3 separate regions of the Homo sapiens genome follow, and all the other regions are linked to region 3. The links come from fine-mapping of genetic effects on gene expression. A gene starts in region 3. Each other region holds a variant in brackets. All regions are shown on one strand. Distances are between the middles of the regions.

Region 1 (8,383 bases), 99 kb before region 3:
GGACGTATTTCAAAATAATAAGAGCTATCTATGACAAACCCACAGCCAATATCATACTGAATGGGCAAAAACTGGAAGCATTCCCTTTGAAAACTGGCACAAGACAGGGATGCCCTCTCTCACCACTCCTATTCAACATAGTGTTGGAAGTTCTGGCCAGGGCAATTAGGCAGGAGAAGGAAATAAAGGGTATTCAATTAGGAAAAGAGGAAGTCAAATTGTCCCTGTTTGCAGATGACATGATTGTATATCTAGAAAACCCCATTGTCTCAGCTCAAAATCTCCTTAAGCTGATAAGCAACTTCAGCAAAGTCTCAGGATACAAAATCAATGTGCAAAAATCACAAGCATTCCTATACACCAACAACAGACAAACAGAGAGCCAAATCATGAGTGAACTCCCATTCACAATTGCTTCAAAGAGAATAAAATACCTAGGAATCCAACTTACAAGGGATGTGAAGGACCTCTTCAAGGAGAACTACAAACCACTGCTCAAGGAAATAAAAGAGGATACAAACAAATGGAAGAACATTCCATGCTCATGGGTAGGAAGAATCAATATCATGAAAATGGCCATACTGCCCAAGGTAATTTATAGATTCAATGCCATCCCCATCAAGCTACCAATGACTTTCTTCACACAATTGGAAAAAACTACTTTAAAGTTCATATGGAACCAAAAAAGAGCCTGCATCGCCACGTCAATCCTAAGCCAAAAGAACAAAGCTGGAGGCATCACACTACCTGACTTCAAACTATACTACAAGGCTACAGTAACCAAAACAGCATGGTACTGGTACCAAAACAGAGATATAGATCAATGGAACAGAACAGAGCCCTCAGAAATAACGCTGCATATCTACAACTATCTGATCTTTGACAAACCTGAGAAAAACAAGCAATGGGGAAAGGATTCCCTGTTTAACAAATGGTGCTGGGAAAACTGGCTAGCCATATGTAGAAAGCTGAAACTGGATCCCTTCCTTACACCTTATACAAAAATCAATTCAAGATGGATTAAAGACTTAAACGTTAGACCTAAAACCATAAAAACCCTAGAAGAAAACCTAGGCATTACCGTTCAGGACATAGGCATGGGCAAGGACTTCATGTCTAAAACCCCAAAAGCAATGGCAACAAAAGCCAAAATTGACCAATGGGATCTAATTAAACTAAAGAGCTTCTGCACAGCAAAAGAAACTACCATCAGAGTGAACAGGCAACCTACAACATGGGAGAAAATTTTTGCAACCTACTCATCTGTCAAAGGGCTAATATCCAGAATCTACAATGAACTCAAACAAATTTACAAGAAAAAAACAAACAACCGCATCAAAAAGTGGGCAAAGGATATGAACAGACACTTCTCAAAAGAAGACATTTATGCAGCCAAAAAACACATGAAAAAATGCTCACCATCACTGGCCATCAGAGAAATGCAAATCAAAACCACAATGAGATACCATCTCACACCAGTTAGAATGGCGATCATTAAAAAGTCAGGAAACAACAGGTGCTGGAGAGGATGTGGAGAAATAGGAACACTTTTACACTGTTGGTGGGACTGTAAACTAGTTCAACCATTGTGGAAGTCAGTGTGGCGATTCCTCAGGGATCTAGAACTAGAAATACCATTTGACCCAGCCATCCCATTACTGGGTATATACCCAAAGGACTATAAATCATGCTGCTATAAAGACACATGCACACGTATGTTTACTGCAGCACTATTCACAATAGCAAAGACTTGGAACCAACCCAAATGTCCAACAATGATAGACTGGATTAAGAAAATGTGGCACATATACACCATGGAATACTATGCAGCCATAAAAAATGATGAGTTCATGTCCTTTGTAGGGACATGGATGAAATTGGAAATCATCATTCTCAGTAAACTATCGCAAGAACAAAAAACCAAACACCTCATGTTCTCACTCATAGGTGGGAATTGAACAATGAAAACACATAGAAACAGGAAGGGGAACATCACACCCTGGGGACTGTTGTGGGGTGGGGGGAGGGGGGAAGGATAGCACTGGGAGACATACCTAATGCTAAATGACGAGTTAATGGGTGCAGCACACCAGCATGGCACATGTATACGTATGTAACAAACCTGCACAATGTGCACATGTACCCTAAAACTTAAAGTATAATAATTAAAAAAAAAATTAAAAAAAAAAAAAGAAATATCATCTCACCCCAGTTGTGATGGCGTTCATCAAAAAGACAAAAAATAACCAAGGGAACTCTTGACACTGTTGGTGGGAATGTAAACCAGTACAGCTACTGTGGAAAGCAGTGTGGAGGTTCCTCACAGAACTACAAACAGAACTGAGGTAGGAGGTGGGACTCAACTCCAGAGGTGGGGCTCGAACACCGGACCAGATTGAGGACTAGCTAAAACAGGGCTGGGGCGGAAGCAGCTTTCAATCAGACACACCCACCAGTGCCATGGAAGTTTATCGTTGCCATGACGACACCGGGAGTTACCGCTCCTTTCCATGGCAATGACTCAATGACCCAAAAGTTACTATGCCTTCCTTAGAAATTTCTGCATAAACCGTCTTTAATCCGCGTGAAATTAAAAGTGGATTAAACATGACTGCAAAACTGCCCCGAGCTGCTCTTCTCTTCTTACAGGGCAGAGAGGGTAGCCCTGCTCTGCAGGAACCGTCTCAGAGCTGTAACATTTCTTCTTTATTAATAAAGCTGTTTTTGGCCGGGCACAGTGGCTCACGCCTGTCATCCCAGCACTTTGGGAGGCTGAGGTGGGCGGATCACGAGGTGGGAAATTCAAAACCAGCCTGGCCAAAATGTTGAAACCCCGTCTCTACTAAAAATACAAAAATTAGGTGGGCGTCGTGGTGCGTGCCTGTAATCCCAGCTACTTGGGAGGCTGAGGCAGGAGAATCTCTTCAACCCAGGAGGCGGAGGTTATAATGAGCCGAGATCGCTCCACTGCACTCCAGCCTGGGTGACAGAGCAAGATTCCGTCTCTAAATAAATAAAGCTGTTTTCTTCTTCCTTTGGCTTGCCCTTGAATTCTTTCCTGGGCAAAGGCAAGAACCCTTGCAGACTAAACTCCACCTTGGGGCTCACCTGCCCCACATCAGAACTACCATAAGATCCAGCAATCCCACTCCTGGACATTTATCCAAAGGAAAGGAATCGGTATATCAAACCAATATCTGCAACCCCATGTTTATTGACAATAGTCAAGACGTGGAATCAACCTAGGTGTCCAACAGCAGATGACTGGATAAAAAACGTGGTATATACACACAGTGGAATACTAGTCATCTGTAAAAAAAAATGAAGTCCTGTCATTCATGGCAAAACGGATGGAACTGGAGGACATTATGGTAAGTGAAATAAGCCAGGAACAGAAAGTTAAATACTGAATGTTCTCACTGACATGTGGAAACTTTAAAAAATGTTGCTCTCATAGAAGTAAAAAGTAGAACAGAGGATATTAGAGGCTGGGAAGGGGAGGGAGAGGGGACGGATAGGGAGAGATTTTTTAAAGGATATGGAATTACAGCTGGATGGGAAAAATAAGTCCTATGGTTCTTTGGCACTGTAGGGTGACTATAGTTAACTATAATTCATAGTTTCAGATAGCTAGGAGGAGAAATTATCGTGTTTGAGACGATGGATGTGTTCGCCACCCTGATCTAATCCTTGATTCATTCTATGTACTGCAGCATCCCTGTGAACCCCACGAATATGTGCCATATTGTGTCAATTAAAAAAATAATAAGAAGTAATTGAGAACCCTAATAAGTATGGTTTATCTATTAACATTTACCATGTTAAAGATGAAAATGGAGAACAATTTAAAATCTTAAGAGTATTAGTCTCTAGAGGGACAGGACTAATAGGATAGAAGTGTATATGAAAGGGAGTTTATTAAGTAGTATTGACTCACACGATCACAGGGTGAAGTCCCACAGTAGGCTGCAAGCCGAGGAACAAGGAAGCCAGTCTGAGTCCCAAAACCTCAAAAGTAGGGAAGCCGACAGTGCAGCCTTCAGTCTGGGGCCAAAGGCCCGAGAGCCCCTGGCAAACCACTGGTGTAAATCCAAGAGTCCAAAACTGAAGAACTTGGAGTCCGGTATTCAAGGGCAGGAGGCATCCAGCGTGGGAGAAAGATGAAGGCCGGAAGACTCAGCCAGTCTCGTCCTTCCGCATTTCTCTGCCTGCTTTTATCCCAGCCACACTGGCAACTGATGAGATGATGCCCACCCAGATTGAGGGTGGGTCTGCCTCTCCCAGGTCCACTGACTCAAATGTGAATCTCCCTTGGCAACACTCTCACGGACGCACCCAGGAACAATACTCTGCATCTTTCAATCCAATCAAGTTGACAATAGTAACCATCACATTAAGTAACCAATTAGTGAAAACTCATAATGAATCCATTATGCTAATGAACATCAAGGATTATGTTATGTTCATAACATAACATGTTACGAAAATAACTATATTTTCTTTAGAAACTGGTGACAGGAGTAGCATTGTTTAGATGTGTGAATGCTCCTGCTGCCTGGCTCCTGGGAAACAAGTTTCCCATGTGGAATTCTGTATTCAGTCTGCAGTGACATCACACGTCAGTTGCCTCTGCACACTTGTGAGAGAACGGGAGTGGAAAAGGCACTCAACACTTCAGCCATGAGAGGAAACCTGTTTGAACTAAGAGTCCCCTAAGAGGGGAGCCAGCACCACTTAAAAACCTTTAAGTACTCTCAATAGAAATCTTTAGTTCACAAGATGTTTTACAAATACCTTATCCTAGTCTCCATATCATTTGTGGAAGGGAAAGTTTAGATTTTATTATTATTTTTTAAAAAATTATTATAGATATATTTATTATTAAATTTTAGTCAATTTTATTAATCTTTTGATCATGTGATTTTTCTATGTATTTTGCG[A/C]AATCCACAAAATGTATTCAAAATATATTTTCTTATATTTTCATCTAAAGAGTCTTGCTATATTTATAAAGTTTCTCAGTCCACCTGAAAATAACCTTTGTGTATGTCTTGAGGTATAGATCTAAAGGTATCTTTTTTCAAAATGAAGAGCCAATTGCCCAAACGATTGGGCACTTTATTTGTTTTCTAATAGACTAAGTTTCAACACAGAAGAGGGTCTTCTTTGGTGCTCTGTACTCTTTTCCTTTGGTCTATTTTTCTCTTCTACCAAGATATCATGTGGCTGTAATTGCAATGGATTTATATGGTGTGCTTATATCTGGTGTAATGTATCCTCGACTTACTTTTTCTCCTTTAAAAGTATCTTGGTTATTATTGTCCTGTATTGTTTTTGGAGTCAGCCAGTCAAGTTTTAAAAAACACGTAAACAGATGCAGGTGAACGTGTCCCCATGGGTGTGTGCTTGGTGGGAACTGCATCAAATTCATCACCTCACTTGGGGAGACTTCATCGCTTTACCATGCAGGTCTCACCACACCTCCCCATTTATAGACATCTTTAAAAATATTCTTCACTGATATCTTTATTTTTTCATAAAGTTATTACCCTTGTCTTAGTTGATGTATTCCTAGGTAACTGATAACTTTTGTTGATGTCAAATGAAATTGCTTTTTATAATTATGAATTGGGTACTGCTGATAGTTTTGTTTACTAGTCTTGTGTCCAGTTGAACTCTCTTATTTGTTATGACCTTTTAAAATGTAGATTTTTATAGGGTCAATAAAGAATGATGGTTTCCTTTTATTCCTGACCCATTGTTCCACATTTAGTTCATTTTCTTGCATTATTGCACAAGCCGGTAACTCTACCCGAGGTTGCATAGAAAGGGTACATAGAAAGGGCATATCTTTGCCTTGCTCCTACCTCCCAAAGGCAGTTTCTGAAGCTTCACTGTCACATGTGGTGGCTGCTTTTTCTAGTCTATGATTTAGATGCTGCTTTTGCATCAACTTAGCTGTGGATTTTTTTTTTAATGAAGTTTCACTCTGTTCCCCAGCCTGGAGTGCAGTTGTGCAATCTTAGCTCCTGCAGGCCTAAGTGCTCTCTATAAACCCCAAGTGCAGCAGGCGGGAGGAGACTCTGGCTATGCACAAAGTTTGCTGGTGGGAGGACAGAGCCAGGAACTCTGTGTGTGTCAGTAAAATGTTGGGGTGACAGTCACCTGGGGGGAAAGCCATCACAGAGGCACTGACATGAGCTGTGTGCATTGGGCAGTCTCTCCACCTCCAAGGGCCTCAGTGTCCTCTCAGGTGTGAGGGTCAGTGGTCCCCGTGGCCTACTGCCACATTCATTGAAATGCTACATGTCCAGAATATGCTATTTACTGGGGGGATAAAGGGAAAGAAATATACTTTGCGCATATTTCATACGGAAGACAATAGTGATAATGCTTCAATTAGTGCATTGGAGATGCCAGGTTGATTGTAAATGAAATTGTGCTGAGATCTCAGCTCTGCACCATAATTGCACTAAGTTTTTTGAATAGAAAACACTTTATCAAAGTTGTGACTTAGTGAGGAGAGATTGCTAATGTTTTTTGCAATGGAGTCTGTTGCTTTATCACATCAAAGATTTTGTTACAAATGCATGCCAGGTGACCTATGAAGTCATAAGCCTGCAGTAACTCACCTGGCTGGTGTAGAGGAGTGTAATTCTAACACGGCCATCCCTGTGGTAAGGGGAAAGGAAAACACTGAAAGGTTGCTTCTCTGTGAACAGAGTGGCTGTTTCCAGGTTTCTGACCCCAAGGACGTGGGTTCCAGTGGACACAGTGAGCCAGGCTGTGGGGTTACACAGCATGTACCATGATGATGGGGGTTCCTTCCTCTTAGGACTCAACACGCCCAGGGCCCTCTGGAAGCACACTCTGGAAGCTGTCCTTCTGCTCTGTTGAGGGGTAAAGAGTTGGTGAATCACCCCCAACCCCTCTAGTCCTTACTCAGTTTCCATCTAACACTACAGATGGGGCCTCATTATACAGATGCAGAAACAGAGACCCTGAGAGAGGTCTGGCCAGGCTGAGGCCCACAGTGAGTTCGTGATAAGGTAGGACCAGAGCCTGGGTCTCAGGCTCACGGTGCTCTCTGTGACCCCACTAGGTCAATCCTCTGTAACCTGCTTTAAGGGAAACAGGGTGGGGCCACACTCCCCGCAGCTCAGTCTGACCCTGTGGATCTGTGGCCTGAGAGTAGGACACATGCACCAGAATAGGTGATTCGGAGCCTGTGGTCCACTCTCAGCCTGTGTCCCCCACCCCACAGGCAGGGCCACTGCTTCCAGATTAAAGGAAAGGTGAGTTACTTAGCGCTCATTAACTCACGAAGTCAGAGGTAATCAAGACCAGATTGAACTTCCGTCCAATCGACTTAGGCACTCTCATGTTTAAAAATCCATATGGGGAAAATAATGCAAGAACGTAATTTTTTAAAAAGAATGTGGAAAAGTGGTGTAAAACTGTTAATTGTTCTTAATGTGAGCTGCAACTTTGGCCTCACTGTGGCTGCTCCGTGACGGATACTGAATGGCGGTGGGGCTCCTTGGAGCTTGCTGAGGGTTCCCGCCTGTATCCACTTTCCCTCCAGTCACATTATTTTAAGAAGGGAAACTGCCCCCCATTCCCTGCCTCCCTGCTTCCTTTGTGGTCCTTGGGAAAAAGAAATTCCACGAAGAAACTAGTCTGTGCTGCTGGGGTAAGGACAGTGTTTTCCCTGGAGGAGGCCACGCTGGAGGGACCACAGAGGCACTGCGGGCAGCTCACACCCTGCTCCAGTGTCCAGGTAATGGCCACAGGGTGAGCTTGGTTTTTCAAAATCTACTGAGCACTTTTCTGTAAGTACATGATATTTCAATGAAGCATTATGAAATTATATTATCAGAAGCCAAATTTGGTTTGTTTCCATTGGGTTTTCAAGGTCTATTTTATTCCTATCCTTTCCTTTTTCTTTACATTTTCTCCTCTTCTTTAACTAAAAAAACCTCTATAAGTTTGAAAGACTCTCAGGTCTTCAGGATAAAATGCGAATTGGTGCTTTAAGCTTTGTCCCTTCCTGCAGTGGGACTCACAGTCCCCTTTCAGAGACCTGCTTGGTCAAGGGTAGTTATGGGAGTTTAGCGTCAGCTTGGGCAGCCTTCCCTGCTTCATGAGCTGACCCACTAGGGGCAGGATCACATGAACACACGTCCTCATCTCTGACACCCTGAGACCTTAAGCAGCAAGTGCAAAGGGAGGACATCCTATGAGTCTCCCTCCTGTGGCCTCAGGTGGGAGGCCACAAGTATGCTCACAGCTCCCGCTCCTGGTGCCTGGCAGCTCAGACCGTAGCTACTTCTCTAGGATTTTTGCACCCAACTCACACTCTCTCCATCCAAGACTCAAACAGTGT
Region 2 (8,383 bases), 32 kb after region 3:
GTCCTCCAGCCTGTTTCCTCGCCTTAGGTGGGACGCGATCACCCGCCTGCGGGGAGTCTTGCTGCCGTGCGACAGTGAGTAGAGGCCGGGCACAGGCCCACAGCAGGCGCTCAGCAAACGCTCACTCCCAGGTCCCCGTGTGCCCGTCTAAGAACCGCGAGGCTTCAGGCCTCCAGGAGGTGTCTTGCGGGGGCAGCCGCTCTGACGTCGCCTCTGCCCACTGTGTCTGGATCCCTCGTGAGGGGCCCCCAGACCAGAGGCAGCCGAAAGGTAGAGTCCAGATGCGGAGGGAAAGACGTGATCTCCGAATTCCGTGATGACAGGTGGGCAGCGGCAGCTGGAATTACACACCAGTCCCACAGCTGTGGTTTTAAGCACTAATATTTTACAGGTAAGAAGCTCCATCTCCCACGGCAGATTGCAACCGTCAGGGTTGTTAGATTCGTGCGGACCGGACGATGCGTCTAAAGGAAAACGGACCCAGGCAGGAACAGCAGCGGCCGCCCGAGTGTTGGCAGAAGCAGGCCTGTTGCTGAATTGTGACGTTTGTAGAAATCGCTGTTTTAGCCGCTGTTGGCTCCTCTCAAGCTCCTGACAGTGATCCCAAGATCTGCTGGGAAGCACCTTCCCCGGCGACTCCTCGGGGACACCGGCTCCAGCTGCAGCCTCAAGTGACCCCTTTGCCGGAGTCCAAGAAAAGAGAAGCTGCTTCCGTGGACTCTTCTGTCCCAGATGAAGCCGCAGCGGCAGGAAGTGGTAGCTGGCTGCTCTCAGGGTTTATTTGGTTGGGACAAGAGGTCCCAAAGCTGTCCTTGGGAAGGAGCTTAGGCGGGGCTGAGCTGATGTGTGCCTCGAGGAGCGGAGGGAGAGACAGGGCAGGAGACAGGGAGAACACGGTCCAGAGGCAGCGGGGAACAGTGGGAGGGAGAGCCGGGCCCTCTGCAACGCCGGCTGTGGGCTGGGACAACAGGGGAGGGTGAGGCAGTCCCAGCTCTCAAGGCCTCTGGCCCAGGATGAGGTGTGAGATGGCCAAGCTGCCGTGGGGCCGCCCGGGAGGAGGAGAAGCAAACCCATCAAGGAGGGCTCACAGGCGTGGTGATATCTGACGAGGCTCCTGAAGGGTGGGTAAGAGTTTTCCAGGAAGGGTGGTTGGAGGGAGCACTAGGCGAGTGGCCGGCACGAACCAAGGCCTCGGGTCCCCAGAGCCCTGTATGGGTCGCAGTTGGGTCTTCCCAGGTTAGGGTTGAGGTTCGGGTTATGTCTCTTCCACAGCCCTTGAGAGCAATAGGATTTCAGCAAATGTAGCTTGTGTGGTTTCTGATGGTCAGAAATAATCCACATTTTAGGATTTCTGTAATCCTGTACTTTAAAACTGGCATCACAGACCATTGCCCCTGCAGACAGCAGCCTGGGCCTCCAAATGGAGGGGCCTGCGGGGGGATGAGCTGTCCGGAGGGTCCACACTGGAGGAGGGGGCAGGCCACGGCCCGGCTGGAGAGCCTCTGTGCCTAGTGGGCCCCGGAGCCCCAGGTCCCTGGTGCAGGGGGTGGAGGTCAGGCAGGCCCTGGGCAGCTGATTGCTGCCTGAAGCCCACCCTGAGGAGGGAGGGAGGCAGGGGAGGAGACAGAACAGATCCCTTGGGGGAAGCAAACCCACATTCCCAGACCCAGGAGCGCCCACGTCAGGGGGACCCCAGGGAGGGCCAGCCCTGCGTGTACACCCCTCCTGCCAGGACCCTGCTTCGGAGGTCACACCAGCTCCTTGTGGAATGGTCTGTTGGAGCGGACCTGACCTGGAGAATCCACGCCTCTCACACATGGAGCTGGGCAACAGCTGGCACCCGCCCCCTCGGCCTCAGCCTCCCTGGGGGCTCCCCCGCCACAAGAGGGGCCGTCCCGGGTGCTTTGAGTGGAGTGAGCTAGAGAGTCGGATATTAGGGCCACCTAGGAGAGCCGGCCTTGTCCATCGCCTGGCCGGGGCTGGACTGACGTGAGCTGTCTCCAAGTCCAGGAGGAAACTCACAAACTCTGAGCTACACAGCAGGTATGAGTCCTGCTGCAACACAGTGCGCTTTAAAAAGTGTGAATAAATTGAAACTTCATGAAATAGCCTATATTTACAATATCCAGACAAAATTACCTCTTTTTGTCTTTTATTTATTTAGTTACTGAGAGAGGGTCTCGCTCTGTCACCCAGGCTGGGTGCAGTCACGGCTGACTACAGCCTCGAACTCTCAGACCCAGAGGTCCTCGTGCCTCAGCCTCCTGAGTAGCTGGGACCACAGGTGGGAACCACCAGGCCCAGCTAGAATGCTTTAAAAAGAGTCATCTAAGGCAGAGGTAGAAGTTACAGCTCTAGGGCCCAAGTCAGCCTCTGTTTTTGTCCAACAGAGGGCTAAAAATGATGTTTATATCTTTAAATAGTTGGAAAATCAAGAGACTATTTTGTGACATGTGAAACTTATAGGAAATTCAAATTTTAGCATCCATAAACAAGGAGATGTGGGGACACAGCCACACACACTCATCACGTGGGTCGAAGGCTGCTCTGGGCCACAGCGGCAGAGGTGAGCGTTTGCACCAGAGGCAGAGTGACCTCGAGGCCTGAAGCACACCGTCCAGCCCTTCACAGAGCGGCGTGCCAGCCCAGCTCTCGGGCTCCCTGGCAAGGCTGGAGCCGCAAGGGGCTCGAGTTTCCCCTGCCCGCAGCCCCCATAACTGGAAGCTGGCTCGCCCAGTGCCCTGATCCCACCCGCCGGCCCCTTCCTGTCCACACATCCCCGCTTTTCCCTGGAAGCCTTTGGTGACAAGTGCAGACACTCTGCCCCTCATCGTCTGGGGTCCTTGGCCGCCTCTCACCTGTCCCCCAGGTGGCAGGTGAGGCCCTCGGGTCCACTCTGAAGGTGATGGGCTGATGCTCCAGGCCGGACATCAGGCTCCGTGACAGCTGGTTCTACACCGTCTTCTCCGGCTGTCCCTGGGGTCACGCCCCTCTCCTGCTGCAGAAACTTGGGTTTCCTCCGTGAGGCTTAAATGAGAGCAGCCTCAGGACAGATGTCCAGGAAAGGCCAAGAGAACTCAAGCTTGACTGTTCCTCAAGCCTGCTCTTGACAGACAGAAGTGGGTTGGGTGAATCTGAGGAAGAGGGGAGAGGGCCTCGCCCCATGGGGCAGGCTTGTTACCGTCAGGACGGGGCTGCTTTGGGTGCTGAGTCCTGGAAGCCGCTCGGACCCATCCATGACTTCTTATGTGTGCTGTCGGCAGCTGACCAGCGGCCACGCTATCCTGGACGCGTGGGGATGGAGCTACGGGGAGGGTGCGGTGGTGACTGCTCCACTGCAGAGCCAGGTATCGCCAGGGGCGCCAGGTGAGACCCAGCAGAGACACAGGTGGAAAGGAGTGAGTCCTCCAGGGTCCCCTGAACAGTCAAGTTCCACCCATTCAGTAGCTTCAAAAACAGGCTCACGATTTGGTGTGGGCCCTGGTCTCCAGCTGGGTTCCCTCACCTTACGGCTCCCCATGGTCACCGGCAACCCAGCATCCCACACTCTGGATGGGGGTCAGGAGTGGAGGCGACAGGAGGCGAGGAGGCGAGTGGGCGGCACAGACAAGGAGGGAGCCCACCCCTGCTCTAGACAGAGTTTAGGAGTGGAGGGGACCGAACAAAAGGAATCGTCTTCATTTCACCTTCTGGTAAGAACAGGCTTTAGCCAAGGAAAGGAGGGGTGGACGTGCAAAGCCCTCCCGTGCGGGAGCCCTGGGACAGAGGAACCATCCCACAGCCCCCCGGGAGCCGCCGATCCCCCCGACACAGCCCCCCGGGAGCCGCCGATCCCCCCGAGACTGGCCTGCACCTGCACATCTGGGGGGCGGGGCCCCGAATTGTCCTGCCACAGTGGCCCCGCCGGCAGGGAGATCAGAGGAAGAAATAAAATCCTCAGGCCTCACCTGGGATCCAGATTCGAGGCCGGAAGAGCAGACTTTGCCGGGGGCACTCACGCAGATCCCCACGTCTCAGGGCACCGCAGTCCTATTACCATAAGCGATCATGCAAAGGTGTGGTAAAAGCCATCTGTCATTCATAAAATGTGATGATGCCTTTCTGCAAAGACATAAGCCATCCCGGGGCTCAGCCAAGAAATGGCCATAAAATCCGGCATAATGACCTCAAAGCACACTTTCCAATATAAAGAACTTTCTAGGCAGCTGTTTCCAGAATTTATCTGTGTGCAATAATTTTACACCTAAAACTATCACTGTGTTCTGTGTCTGGTGGCCTCTTTAGCAGTTCCTCCCCTGTAACAGCAAGAAAGTGCCTTCAACATGCTGATGGGCCCCGGGTCAACATGCTGATGGGCTCCGGGTGACCAGTGACAGCATCAGGTTCGCTTGACAATGGCTTTGCCGTCGGACACAGGCGCAGGTGCCTGGGGAGGTGCCGTCTGTCTTTGTGATCCCCCAGGTTGCCAGGAAGGAGGAGCTCATGCCTCTGTTGAGAAGAGCAGGTTTTGTCTTGGTTGGACTCAGAGACCCTGAGAGCAGGATTTTCCCTCCCAAGCGCTCCCCAGGGGGAGACCCCTCGGGCCAGGACTCCCAGGGCCCACACAGAGCCTGGTGTTCGGAGGACAGAGCCTGTGGGGACCAAGGGCAGGCACAGCTGGGCTCGCACCGACAGCTGGGGAGGGAGGGGGAGCTGGAGCCTGAACTGACC[C/G]CTTTGGTGGTGGGGTTGGTGGGGTACAGGGAGTCAATGGCCCAGCCCCAGCGACAGCACAGCAGCTTCCCCAGGAGGAAGGGGAGGCTGAATAGGAGAGAGAACCCCACCTCCTCCACACCTGAGGCCGTAGCCCGAGGCTTTCACTCCAGACCCAGGCATGTACGGGCTCTGATAAGAGGTTCCCTGTAATTTATCCTCACTTGAATCTCAAATTTGCTTCTAAATATCCAATCTTTTTTGTCTAATGTATGCGTTTTCATCCCTAATCACCAAACCTGTAGATTACACTCATGCATGAAATATTTGGTGAATACCTTTTAATTTTACAAAATGTCTCCTTCTGAAATTACTCCTCCGCACCCAGGAAAAAACAGAATGATGTCACTGCCAACTTCGAGGTAAAAGTATTTCGCAAATCTTAACAATTTTAGCTTCTACATGCACGTTAGGAAGTGTTGATGGACACAGGATCATACTCTACCTATTGGAGGAAGGAGACGATTTAATTGATCATGTCTTCAATTCCTGTCCCCACCCTCCCCGGGCCCCTCTGTCCTGGGGGGCCGTGGCCTCGCGATGATCTAGGCTGTGACAGAGGAGCACCCAAATCCTCTTCAGATTCCTTTCAACTCGGCTGTGACGTCTGCGTCTTCATAAGAAAGGACGTGTTTCCGAGCGGCCACTGAGAACTACAGGCAGGCCGACCGGCAAACCACCCACAGCCAGCACCGGGAGCTGCAGAAGCCACGGGGCCCTCACAGGGGTTCTCTGTCTCCTCCATGGAGGTGCTCCCTGTCTATCTGCTGGGCCCGCTCACAGGGCCCCTCCACGGATGGTGCCCGGCCTCCCTCACGTCCTCGAGGCGTCCCTCGGTCAGGTACTTAGAATCTGCGTCTCCCACCTGCTTTTCCCAAGGCTGCAGCTTCCCCTGGACAAGAGCGGAGCCTGGGCTCCCAGTGCCAGGTTACTAGCCCAGGACCTGGCCCCTGGCAGATGCTGGGCATAGGCTTATGAGAGGACTGAAGTGGCTGTGTCTCCACGCAGCCGACAGCTTCACGAGAGAGAAGGGGAGGTCAAGGCCAAGATCCAGTGACAAGAGGACCAGAGCCCCATGACTAGCAGGCCACAGATGGCAGCTAGTTTAGTCCTCACAACAAGGTGAGAGCCAGCAGCTCCCTCCCACAGCAGGAAACTGAGCTCTGAGAGATTCCCTGACATGCCCAGTGCCGTCTGGCTGGTGAGGGACAAGCCGGACCTAGCCCCCATGTGCTGGCTCCAAGCCCACCCTCAGCCCAGCCCCTCCCACAGCGCTGGCCTTTCCTTCCCACACCCCAACTGCTGCCTCCAGCACGGGGACCCCCAGGGAAGGGCAGGACCCTGGGAAGCAGATGTGGGCTTCTTGTTCCTAAGTGTCCAGAATTCCAAGATGGCTTAAACCCAGCATAGGGCTGAATGGGTGAGGCTGGCGAAGAGGTCAAGTTTCTCTGTAAAAATAGTGACCACAATAATAGCAACGTGTGCTTTGTAGCAAAGACTCACTGAGACTCTGCGTGCAAAGTGCTAAGGCCGGCCCAGCTTGCGGCCACGCCAAGTGCCGTCTGCTGTGGGGCCAGCTCCTCCCTCCTCCTCCAGTTCCTCGGGCTGTCTGGTCTGGGGATGTGGCTTTGGGGCTCGGTGGCCTGCAGCCCATCCCCTTGCCTTCAAGGGCCCCTTAGGGCACAGAGCACCCCGTCAGGTAGCATCCCCAGGACGCGGGGCCGGCTGAATCCCTGGGTGCTGTGCCCTCTGCTCTGCCTTCTCCGGGGCCCCCGGCAGGATTGGCCTCCCCGACTCCGGCAGGAACTTGGTGCGGCTGTCCCAGCCCTGGGCATCTTCTCCCTCAGGCTGCGGCCTCACAGGGCCCACGAGGGTCAGAAAGCAGAGGTCTGGCTGTTTTGATTTTTGGGTTTTTATTGAGACAGGGTCCAGCTGTTGCTCGGGCCGGGCTGCGGTGGTGTGATCACCGCTCACTGCAGCCTCGGTTTCCTGGGCTCAGGAGATCCTCCCACCTCAGCCCCCTGAGAAGCTGGGACTACAGGCACGCACCACCACGCCCGGCTCATGTTTTTATTTTTTGTAGAGATGGGGTCTCCCTCTGTTTCCTCAGCTGCTCTCGAACTCCTAGCTCAATCAGTCCACCCACCTAGGCCTCTGAAAGTGCTGGGATGACAGGTGTGAGCCCCTGTGAGCCCAGCCCCTGGACTTTTTTTGGACTCTTTCATATAACTAATATGTAGGCCTGGAAGTCTGGTCATTGCTTTAAGTAGTTTCTTGGTAGAGAACTAAGAATTCTATGTTTGAGAGGCCGTAGGGGCCACATCTGACCCACTTCCTTCTAACTAATTTTTGTTTTTTTTGAGACAGAGTTTCTCTCTTGTTGCCCAGGCTGGAGTGCAGTGGCGTGATCTTGGCTCACTGCAACCTCCACCTACCAGGTTCAAGCGATTCTCCCACCTCTGCCTCCCGAGTAGCTGGGATTACAGGCATGCGCCACCATACCCGGCTAATTTTTGTATTTTTAGTAGAGACGGGATTTCTCCATGTTGGTCAGGCTGGTCTCGAACTCCTGACCTCTGGTGATCCACCCGCCTCGGCCTCCCAAAGCGCTGGGATTACAGGCGTGAGCCACCGCACCGGGCCCAGGTAGAACTATTTTTAAAGCCAGCTTTTGTTCATTATACCACACTGTGTCTACGAACAATCTGTAGACTGTGTGCTCGTGTGCCTGTGCACCGGTGTGTGTGTGTGGATGCCGTGAACAGACTCTAGATTATCTGCCTTTTGGAATTTCCCGACATTGTGTGACCATCAGAACATGATCAGTGTTGCGAATGCTCCATGTGTAACGGACTGTGAGTCCTGTGTTTGACGGATACAAAATAAAGTCAAGCTTTTACATTGTTTTATTCTTGTGTTTTCGGCTTCTTGATCGGTTGCTTTTAATGAAAACGAATGAGTTCTATTTTCAAAGACCCTCAGACGGTGGGTGGGGAACGGATAGCCCAGGAGTCCAGCGTTGGGGCGGACTGGCCGGCGGGCCAGCGACAGCAGCCGGAGGGACGAGCACGACCCTCCCCAGCCACCCCGCGTCCCCCGAACCCAGCCCAGCAGATGCAGAGCTCACATTTTCTCCTGCTAGCGGCTCTCCCGGCTCCCCTGTGAGCCCCGATAGCCAGGCCCATTGCCCGTCAGCACCCACAGCCAAGCGGGAGGCCTGGGGAGGAAGGAATATTGTCCCGTTCTGGCTTTGCCGGCCAGGATTAGAATTGCACGCGGCGCAGCATCTGGCGCCCGCTGGACGCTCAGTAAGGACAAGACGGCTCTCCTCCTCCTGCCACCCAGAGCCCCAGCCTCCTCCCAGCACCCCCAGGCTCCCAGAATAGGCTACGGCCAGAGCTGGCCTGTGGTAAACAGCTCGGAGCCTCCGGGCAGGTCTTGGATGAGTAACCCTCAGCAAAACATCGTGGGATCCAGAAAGGTGCAGGTGCCAGGCCTGAGCTGGGTGGGCCCCTCCAGCACCCCCACCTGGACCCTCCGCTGGGCCACTCCAGGCCAACGCATGGGTGGAGGTGCAGGGGGAAAGCCAGCTCTTGGGCTGCGGTGCCCGCCTCTGCCCCACCTCAGGAGGCTG
Region 3 (8,383 bases):
TTATGCTGGAAAGTCCTGTTTGCAAGAGAAAAACAAAACCTGGTCTATTCTAGGACCCATGTGTTTCCTTAAAGTCTTAATTCGATTATGTCACATTTAGCACGAATGATGCCATTTTGGTTCGGTTTGGTCTGTTGGGACCTAGTGCTCAGTCCAAAACAATGGCCTCCCATCATTTTGTTTAAAAAATTCCCCCTTTGTCAGGTTGTCACTTAGGCAAGAGTGTGACCAAAACTTAGGATGTTAGCGCCACTCTCCGTTACTATCATTTTGGATTTCCAGTCTCAGCATGTCACTCATCGGTTTCGGTGTCCTCGTGGTCACACATTTCTTTCAGCTCTTGTCATTCCAGTTGAAGAGAGACCATCTGACGTTCTAAAGATGGCTTCATGCAAACATTTAAAACCTTTGAGAGAATACAGTGCACCAGGGAGACTATTCTTATGACTACTGAGAGGGTTAACACCAAGAATTTGGAGTATGCTCCTTAGCCAGGGTCCCCATAAACCAGACCACCTAAACTCAAATAGACCATTCTTTGACTTAACTCAGTGGTCTTTTCGTTAATTCCCTACAACAGACTCTCTATAACACCTGATGTTTTCTCCATAGGCCTTAAGTGCCAGCATCTGCACAGGTACTTTCCTGTTTAGCCAATTCTATTTTTTAGCATAACTTTCACAAGAGAATTTAACATCTGTTGTGTAGCCTTTACAGTAGAATCTGCTACAGAGTCTACCATGAGGGATATGTTTCTAGTCATTGCCTTTTTAATTCCAAACCATGGAAAAAGGACCTAACAAATGATGCCCTTCTAGAAGAGGGAAGGCCTCTTGGCAATGGTCTCTTTAACCCATGCTGTGGGTTAAGAGGAGTGAACCAATGTTCTGCTTCTGAATGATTATGAGGCACCATATGTACCATTGAAGTTTCTCACCTATGATACACTGGGCCTTCATCTTTATCTATCAAGTTATAAGATTATCCATGTATAAAGCTGGCTGCAAAGCCCTTCACAAATAAAAGTATACCCCATAAGTGCACAAAACAGACCCCCTTCTCACTTCTGTTGTTCACAGAGGCGGAAGCAACGGAAAAACATTCAAAGATAAGAGTCTCATGATAGTAAGAAGTCTTGATCCATGATCTTCAGAAAGAGCTGCTCACATCAAGGATGCCATCTTCTTCTGGGGAGAAACTTCCCTGATTAGCTTTACCTTAAGGGTTTCAATGGATGTAGAGTTCCAAGAGTGACCCTGCTCAGTTGTGAGATTATGACCCCAAGGTTCAAGATCCTGATGTTTTGTTGCAGTGATGATGCCAAGGGCAGCGTTTCTCTGATGTTCTCAGAAGATCCCATCTTTGGGTTCTAGATTGTGAAGGGGTTGATTGTCCTCAGTGAACCATAAAAAGCTCTTTACCTGGTGAAAATACACTGATACATAGTAATCTACTGTTATAACATTAGCCCTCCTGCATGGGAAAGCTTTAGTACAACCAGAACACATACATTGAAAATGACAACTGAATGAAACCCCTTTATAAATGTTTAAATGCCTCATCAGGTAGCCAAATGTACATGAAGCTTTGATTGACTTCCCAGGAGTATGGGTTTGACAAACTAAACATTGTTTATAAACTATTTTAACAATCTGTAAGTCACCACACCAACATATTTAATTTGGATCATTTTATCTTTTCCAGGATGAGTCATGGAATGCATAACTTTTAATAACAAAAGCTTTAAGGACTCACGAAGGACAAGGCAGCCATCTTGGTTCTCCATGAGTCCATGCTTAACATCGGACTTATGTCCTCTTGGGTGCCAGTTGTTTCTCCAAATTGGGCACATAGCATGGATAACTGATGGGTTATCACAGGTAATTTGACTTAGACCATGGAGTTCATTCAAATTGTATATCTAAACAATTTCAGTATAGGCTGATTAAGTATGCAAACCTGGTGAAGCATTTCCTCGGTATTCAATTAATTTTTATTCTATTTGGGTTAGCAGTTTTATAAGCCAGTCAGTCTTTTCATTAAAGTTTCAGCAATTCTTACCCAGTCCAAATGATGTGATTTTGAAGTTACTAGAAACCTGTATTCCACAGTGCTTTTCAGGGTCCTCCCCATCCGTTCACGAACCTCCTAAAAGACACCATGTTCTAGGATTTTTGTGTGCTTGTGAAGTTTTCAGAAACTACATCAGCATGAAGCAATTAACTGCGGAAATGACTTTAAATACTCAAAAAGACACAATTGACAAAGAAATTTGGTTATAACAACAACATAACCATAATTATGATCGGTAGCATATACTCAGAAAAATTAGAATTTTAGAAATCCCATACAACTTTGGAACATATATTAATATCATTCACTAAAATATAACCTGAAGAAGGTTAAATTTTTTTTTTGACACTATTCTGTATCGAAAAGTCCAAAATGTTTCTTAAAAAGTAACTAAAAAAACACTGGAGTAATTAAAGGACACTTCCTGTGCAGGGGATGGAAAAATCTCAACAAAAAAGGAGCGCAGAAGAGCCTGGCTAGGCGGGAGAACACGGTCAGGCCCGCAGGAGACGCCGCGGCACCTGCCAGAAAGAGAGCCGCAGGCCAAGACCAGGAGACGCGAGAGAGGTGGGCAGGGCTGCCCGAGAGACCCAGGCGGCCATTGCCCGCCCTGCGTCTGCGCCTGCGCCGGAGCCTCCTCCACACTGCGCCAGCGCCGAGTCCGGCCGCCTCCTCATTGCGCCGGCGCCGGGGCTTCCTCCACACCGCGCCTGCGCCGATGACAACCCGCCTCTACAGGACGCCTGCGCAACGCCATAGTCACCTCATCAGCTCCGTGCACTTACGAGTCTCTCTCTGATCGACCACGTGTTCCTGTCGGCTCACAGAGGCCGCCTCAGGGTCCTCCCCCATTGTCTTCCTCGCACCCTCCACTGTTCCCGGCCCTTCACTCTGCGCTTGCGCAGGAGTCGCTCGCTCCTCTCTGCGCCTGCGCAGAGGCCACCTCCTCCCCGCCCGTCCGCTCCCTTGGCGTCGTCTTGGGCCGCGCCCCGACCCCTTCTGTTTACGCATGCGCAGGAGCCGCCCTGCGCGGGTGGGGGGCTGAGCCCCTGTGGCTTCAGGTTTAAAGGCGCGAGCGCCACCCACGCAGGCACAAGGGCTCCTAGTCGTTTTATTTTTAGCGTAAGGTTTTCCTCTTTAACAAGGAAGTAAAAAAAAAAGTTGTGCAATAAATATTAATCGTCCTTATATGTACTCGGGAACGTTCGTCCTTTAGGTTTTCTCCTGGCGCATGGGCGCCGCCAATCATTTCGGGGCTTATTTTGGTTCTAAAGCCCGGGGCAGCCAGGCCTCCCTGCCTGGCCTCGGCGGGGACGCGGGACCTGGGGCCCCGGACCGGGCCTAACCGCCCTGGCCGGTCCCCACTGATGGTGGCGGTCGGTCCTGATCGTCCTGATGGCAGCGACCAGGCTGGACTCGGGCTGTGCAGGGGCGAGGGGAGCAGGGCGGGGTGACGCCCGGAGAGCGGCCTGGAGAGCGCGTGCTTCAGAAGGCGTGGGCACCCTGTCCCCTTTGCAGATGGGGATGCAGGCCCTGGTGGCGGTGGAGGGGAGATGGGGGCAGGGACGTTGCCGGGCAGAGGAAGCTGGGTGAGTGTGCACTTGGTCCCCTTTGCTCCTCCCTGGGACTTTGGGCTCTATAGGGCAGCCTCCGAGGCCCACGTGCACACTCGGTGAACCACAGTCCAGACACAGGCAGGGCGGCAGGCCAGGGAAGGAGAGGCCAGGTGTTGGTGCATGGAGAGGCCAGGTGTTGGCCTGGGGGTGCTAAGTGAACCCCCAAGGTCGCGGAGACAGTAGGGCAACAGCAAAACGAGCTCTGCCGTCCAGGGCGAGGGCCCGGAGTCCTCCCCAGGGGTGGGCTGCAGAGAAGCCCCTGTCCAGGCCCTGCTCACCTGCAAAGTGCTCCCGAGCTCCTGTGCCCCCAGCAGCAATCCCAGCCCCGCTGACACCCAAGCTTGTCACCCGCTGGGTTTCTTGAGGTCTGAGGACCGTGGCTGAGGGTGCATGGGCGCTGGGATGGAGGGGGATGTCCTGTCCCAGTCTGTGCTTATTAATTGTTAAAGAGGGCAAGGCTGCTTTTATTCAAGGTGGGGGGGCTGCTAAAGCGAGATGTTGGGTTAGGGGAGGCAGATCCGGCTCAACTCCAGATAGAAAAAGTGGGAATTGACAGCCCAGGCGTAGGGTCGGGAGTGGAGAGAAAATTACTAAGAGGAAGGGTCAGGGGCAAGGCGGGTTCTAGCTGCATAGACAGGATTTTTGCTGAAAAGGCAGGCAGTGTGGTCACAGACCGAGGGTGGGAGTTGAGGACTTTGATCAGGGACCAAGAGTAGACGATTTTCACTAAACCGACTCAGCAGGATTCTTGCTAAATCGGCCGAAACCGGCCAAGGTCAGGGACTGGTCACAGGGAGGGCTCAGAGGAGCCTGACTCGAGTGTGGTCAAAGGAGAGAGTCTTTGTCATCTTTTAAGAGGCGAGAGTGACGTATTAGTGAGAAACGGTGAAGGGATCAAGCTCAGGCCAGCAGCCCCGAGTTTGAGATGAGGACAGGCTGGGTCCAGGAAGGGCTGCAGGAATAGGGGGCACCTGAGCCTGCAGAAAGCGGGGAGCCCAGCCGCCAGAGCAGGCACCCCCAGGCAGACCTCAGTGTGTCCTGCCCTGTGGGAGTGGCAAGGCCAGACCAAGCTGGATGTGAACCAGTCCCAGAACACCGCCTAGAATTTGGATTGTAATTTGTTATCGATGATATTGCTGCTTGGTCTCTCTCCTCTTCCTCCCCACCCCCACCCAAGATGGAGTCTGGCTTTGTCCCCCAGGCTGGAGTGCGATGGCAGGATCTCGGCTCACTGCAACCTCCGCCTCCTGGGTTCAAACAATTCTCCTGCCTCAGCCTCCCAAATAGCGGGGATTACTGGTGCGTGCCACCACACCCAGCTAATTTTTGTATTTTTGGTAGAGACGGGGTTTCATCATGTTGGCCAGGCTAGTCTCAAACTCCTGACGTCGTGATCCGCCCACCTCAGCCTCCCGAAATGCTTTGGGATTACGGGTGTGAGCCGCCGCGCCGAGCATGGCCATCGTGGCTACATCAGTCCCGGCTAATAGAGATTTTAGCACACTCAGATTCTATTGGCTAATAAGATTTAATTATAATTCTGGGGTATTTAACAATGTCGTTATACAGTCTTCATTGTTGCAAATGGAGAATGAAATCGGGTGCATGTGACACTAATATGACCTGTTCATGCTCTGTCACTTAAACGGAGTTAAGTAACATAGCCCTGAGCAGGAAGACTCCTTCCCCACTTCTGTCCAGGAGCTCCTTACTCGATTCTGGGGAACAGAAAGGCTTTCAGCGGCCAAGGGGAGTGACAACAGCCAGACATGAGACACCTCCTAGAGCCCTTTGGTGTTACCCTTTCCGGTCCATCAGCCACAGTGTCCACCCCAGGTAGCTGGGTCCTGAGTTCACCGTCTCAGGACATTTTTCGACCTGGTTTGTCTGAATTATTATTATTATTGATCATTGAGACAGGGTCTCAGTCCATCGCCAAGACTGGAGTGCAGTGGTGTGATCCTGGCTTACTCAGCCTCCCAGGCTCAGGTGATCCTCCCAGCTCAGCCTCCTGCGTAGCTGGGACCACAGGCAGGCACCACCATGCCTGGCTAAATTTTTTGTATTTTTTGTAGAGACCAGCTCTCGCTATGTTGTCCAGGTTGGTCTCAAACTGCTGCCTCAGCCTCCCAAGGTGCTGGGATTACAGGCATGAGGGACCAAGCTCAGCAATCTGAATTATTTATGCAGAATTTTTTTTTCTCTAGCTGGAAGAGCTGTTTATATGCACGTTTCTTTGGGGGCAACTCTTCTCCATTGTCACAGATTTTTTTTTTCCAAGCCATTCCTGGGGGATTCCTGGGAGCCATGTGGGAGAGGCGTGAGGAAGTGAGACCTTCACCCCGAGACAGGTCCTGACACACCCTCTGGTGCCTCTACTCAAGTGAGGTGAGAGGGGAAACTGGTGTATTTTTAGATGAAGTTTCCTTGGGAAATTGTTTCTATTTTATATTTTATCAGTAATCCCCTGGCTAATGTTTTAAACCAATATTTATAACACTGCCTCAGAGCTTTGGAATAAACAGATTTCCATAAAGAAAAGCTGCTTTAGAGTGCTACACTGTAAGAGGGGCCGGGCAAACAAGAAGGGACGGAGGAAAGACCACCAAGTGAGAGGCACAGGTGTCAGGACACACAGAGAGCCCGAAAACGAGGCAGAGGTGAGCGGGGACCAGCAGCACAGCGGCACTGACGCGCCAGGGACTTGGGCTCTGCTGGCCTCCTCCCTCGCGGCCAGCAGTGGCAGTGGTGGGAGTAGGCCTGGCTTGTCTGTGGTTGCCTTTGTTGCTTTAATTGAAAGTACTCAAGGCTATTTCTTGTCGCGTCATTTCTGACAGTGTCCGGTGGTCCCTACCCTGTAATGCCAGGAGGTTCCAGCCCCACCCTTCCCTCCCCACTCCCTCTTTCATCTCCCGGATCCTATTAGAGGATTGCTTTTATAGCTGATGAGCTGATGAAGTATGCATTTAGCCCTTTAACCGTAACTGAATTTCCCCTGGTGCACATCTGTATGAAGGGTGTGCACCAGGGCTGAGCCGTCTGCTGGGCGAATATGTCCCTCCCTGAGGCCCAGGACCACAACCCCTGAGTCACTCAAAGGAATCGTTCCCAGCCTTAAGGTCAGATGCGCTTTCTCCTTGTCCTCCATTATTTCTTTAAATTCCTGCCACATTTAAGTTTCTTTATATTTAAACTAAGACCTTTTATTTCTTAAACTTCTAATTGCTGTTCTTTTATTATTTTTGATAGAAGTTTGGCTGCTGTAACTGACTGGGAAGCTTAAAATAACAGACAATCATCTCTCACATTTATGGGGACTGGGAAGTCCAAGACCAAGTTGCCATCTGGGGAGGGCCTGTTCCTCACAGCGCCTTCCAGCTCAGGCCTCGTTTATAAGGGCACTCAAGCCTTCCACGACAACGGGTCCTCATGACTTACTCACCTCGGAAAGCCCCACCCCCAAGACCATCACATTGTGGGTGATGGCAGAGCATAAGGTGCCTTCCCCACATGCTCGGGTTGGCCCAGCGTCTCACGCTAGCAGCTACGTGGAATAGTTATTTTTTCTGGAGAACTCTGGGACCCCTCTGATGTCTTGGAGCACCCACACAGGCCGTTCACTGTGCACGCTGTGAGGCTGTCGTCTTGGAGCACCCACACAGGCCGTTCACTGTGCACGTGGTGAGGCTGTCCTCTGGGGAGTTCTGCTGTTGTATGGGTTCTGTCTGTGTCAATGTCCCAGCGGGAACGCAGGGCACACTAGCGTCATCCCCAGAGGGCTTGGTAAGGGGACTGTTTGCAGAGACATAGGCAGAGGGCTGGAAAACTACCAAAAAAGTGCAGTGTTCTGGACCTAATAATAGCAGAGCTATTCTCACCCTGGTCTGAAGGCAGGAGGGGAGGAGCAGTTAATGGATTCTGGAAGTCAGGTTGCACAGAGTCACCTTGAAAGATGCCATGACCTTCACCGAGGGCCAGACAGAGACTAAGATGACCCCATAGGAGAATAAGACCTAGACCTCATCCTCCTGCCTCCTGCCAGTCCCTGCCAGGGGTCGCCAATGGCAAAACAGGACTGGAAGCCAGAGGCCATGGAAGCCCATGGATGAAGTCCACAGGCCAGCCTCCCCGAGAGCAGCCTGGACGGTCCGCAGGAGACGTCTCCTGTCTTAGGCGTCCCACGCCGCGTGCTCCTGTTCAGCCCTGCCGAGGTGGAAGCTTGGAGTGGCTCACGGTGGATGCATTGACGCTGCAGACGCCAGCAAGTGCTACAAACCAGAGCTGGCCTTTAACTCAGACTGATGGAGAAGGTGTTAATAATGCAGATTAGACTTAAAAGTGTTGAAGCCATTGCACTGTGAACAGCAAAAAAATTGAAGAACTCTTCTGGCATTTAAAAACAATTACTCAGTTCAGCAGAGAAGTCACTGACAAACGAGATCACACTGACTGCTTTGTCGTTTTGGTTTTGTCTTACTCATTAATGCAAATAAGAACATTCACTAGCATCTGTGTCGGGCCTACCCTCCCTGGTCAAATACAGCTACAGTCTCCCTGCAGAAACGAGTTTTCCAGAAATGAGCCGATGTTTTCTGCGAGAATCAATTGGTCATATACAATTTACAAAAATGAGTACTGTATACTATATTTGTAAACTGTACACTGCAGATGCTTTATTTCACTGAAATTTATAA

Alleles and levels. Alleles are on the strand shown, and positions count from the first base shown. SD is a standard deviation of normalised expression in the study named.
For the expression in monocytes of the gene that starts at base 3,248 in region 3, allele C in region 1 goes with a higher level than allele A (large effect, 1.5 SD a copy in Quach 2016).
As copies of G replace C in region 2, the expression in activated CD8 T cells of the gene that starts at base 3,248 in region 3 goes down (large effect, 1.1 SD a copy in Schmiedel 2018).

What was found. PIP is the estimated chance that this variant, and not a neighbour inherited with it, causes the effect. A credible set is the group of variants that fine-mapping cannot tell apart.
Region 1: its variant is the best candidate, but not a certain one, in a credible set for the expression of LINC03014 in monocytes (Quach 2016, PIP 0.63).
Region 2: its variant is the best candidate, but not a certain one, in a credible set for the expression of LINC03014 in activated CD8 T cells (Schmiedel 2018, PIP 0.58).

What each region holds. Positions count from the first base shown.
Region 1 is chr7:47,674-56,056 of GRCh38, forward strand. No RefSeq gene overlaps it. Among named protein-coding and RNA genes, the nearest start is that of FAM157D, 16 kb to the left of the region's middle. The variant A/C (reference allele first, on the strand shown) is at 4,941.
Region 2 is chr7:178,621-187,003 of GRCh38, forward strand. LOC105375116 (TRIO and F-actin-binding protein-like) reads left to right here. Exons shown (of 4, transcript XM_017012903.3): 4 at 392-2,106. The coding sequence ends at 595. LOC124901806 (a long non-coding RNA gene) reads right to left here and starts at 3,713. Exons shown (of 2, transcript XR_007060631.1): 1 at 3,506-3,713; 2 at 2,141-3,335. LOC124901808 (a long non-coding RNA gene) reads right to left here. Exons shown (of 2, transcript XR_007060632.1): 1 at 8,278-8,383; 2 at 7,638-7,966. The variant C/G (reference allele first, on the strand shown) is at 4,711.
Region 3 is chr7:146,471-154,853 of GRCh38, forward strand. LINC03014 (long intergenic non-protein coding RNA 3014) reads left to right here and starts at 3,248. Exons shown (of 2, transcript NR_108065.1): 1 at 3,248-3,662; 2 at 6,939-8,383. LINC03015 (long intergenic non-protein coding RNA 3015) reads right to left here and starts at 2,968. Exons shown (of 3, transcript NR_134325.1): 1 at 2,859-2,968; 2 at 2,062-2,148. RefSeq lists an enhancer at 2,699-2,993.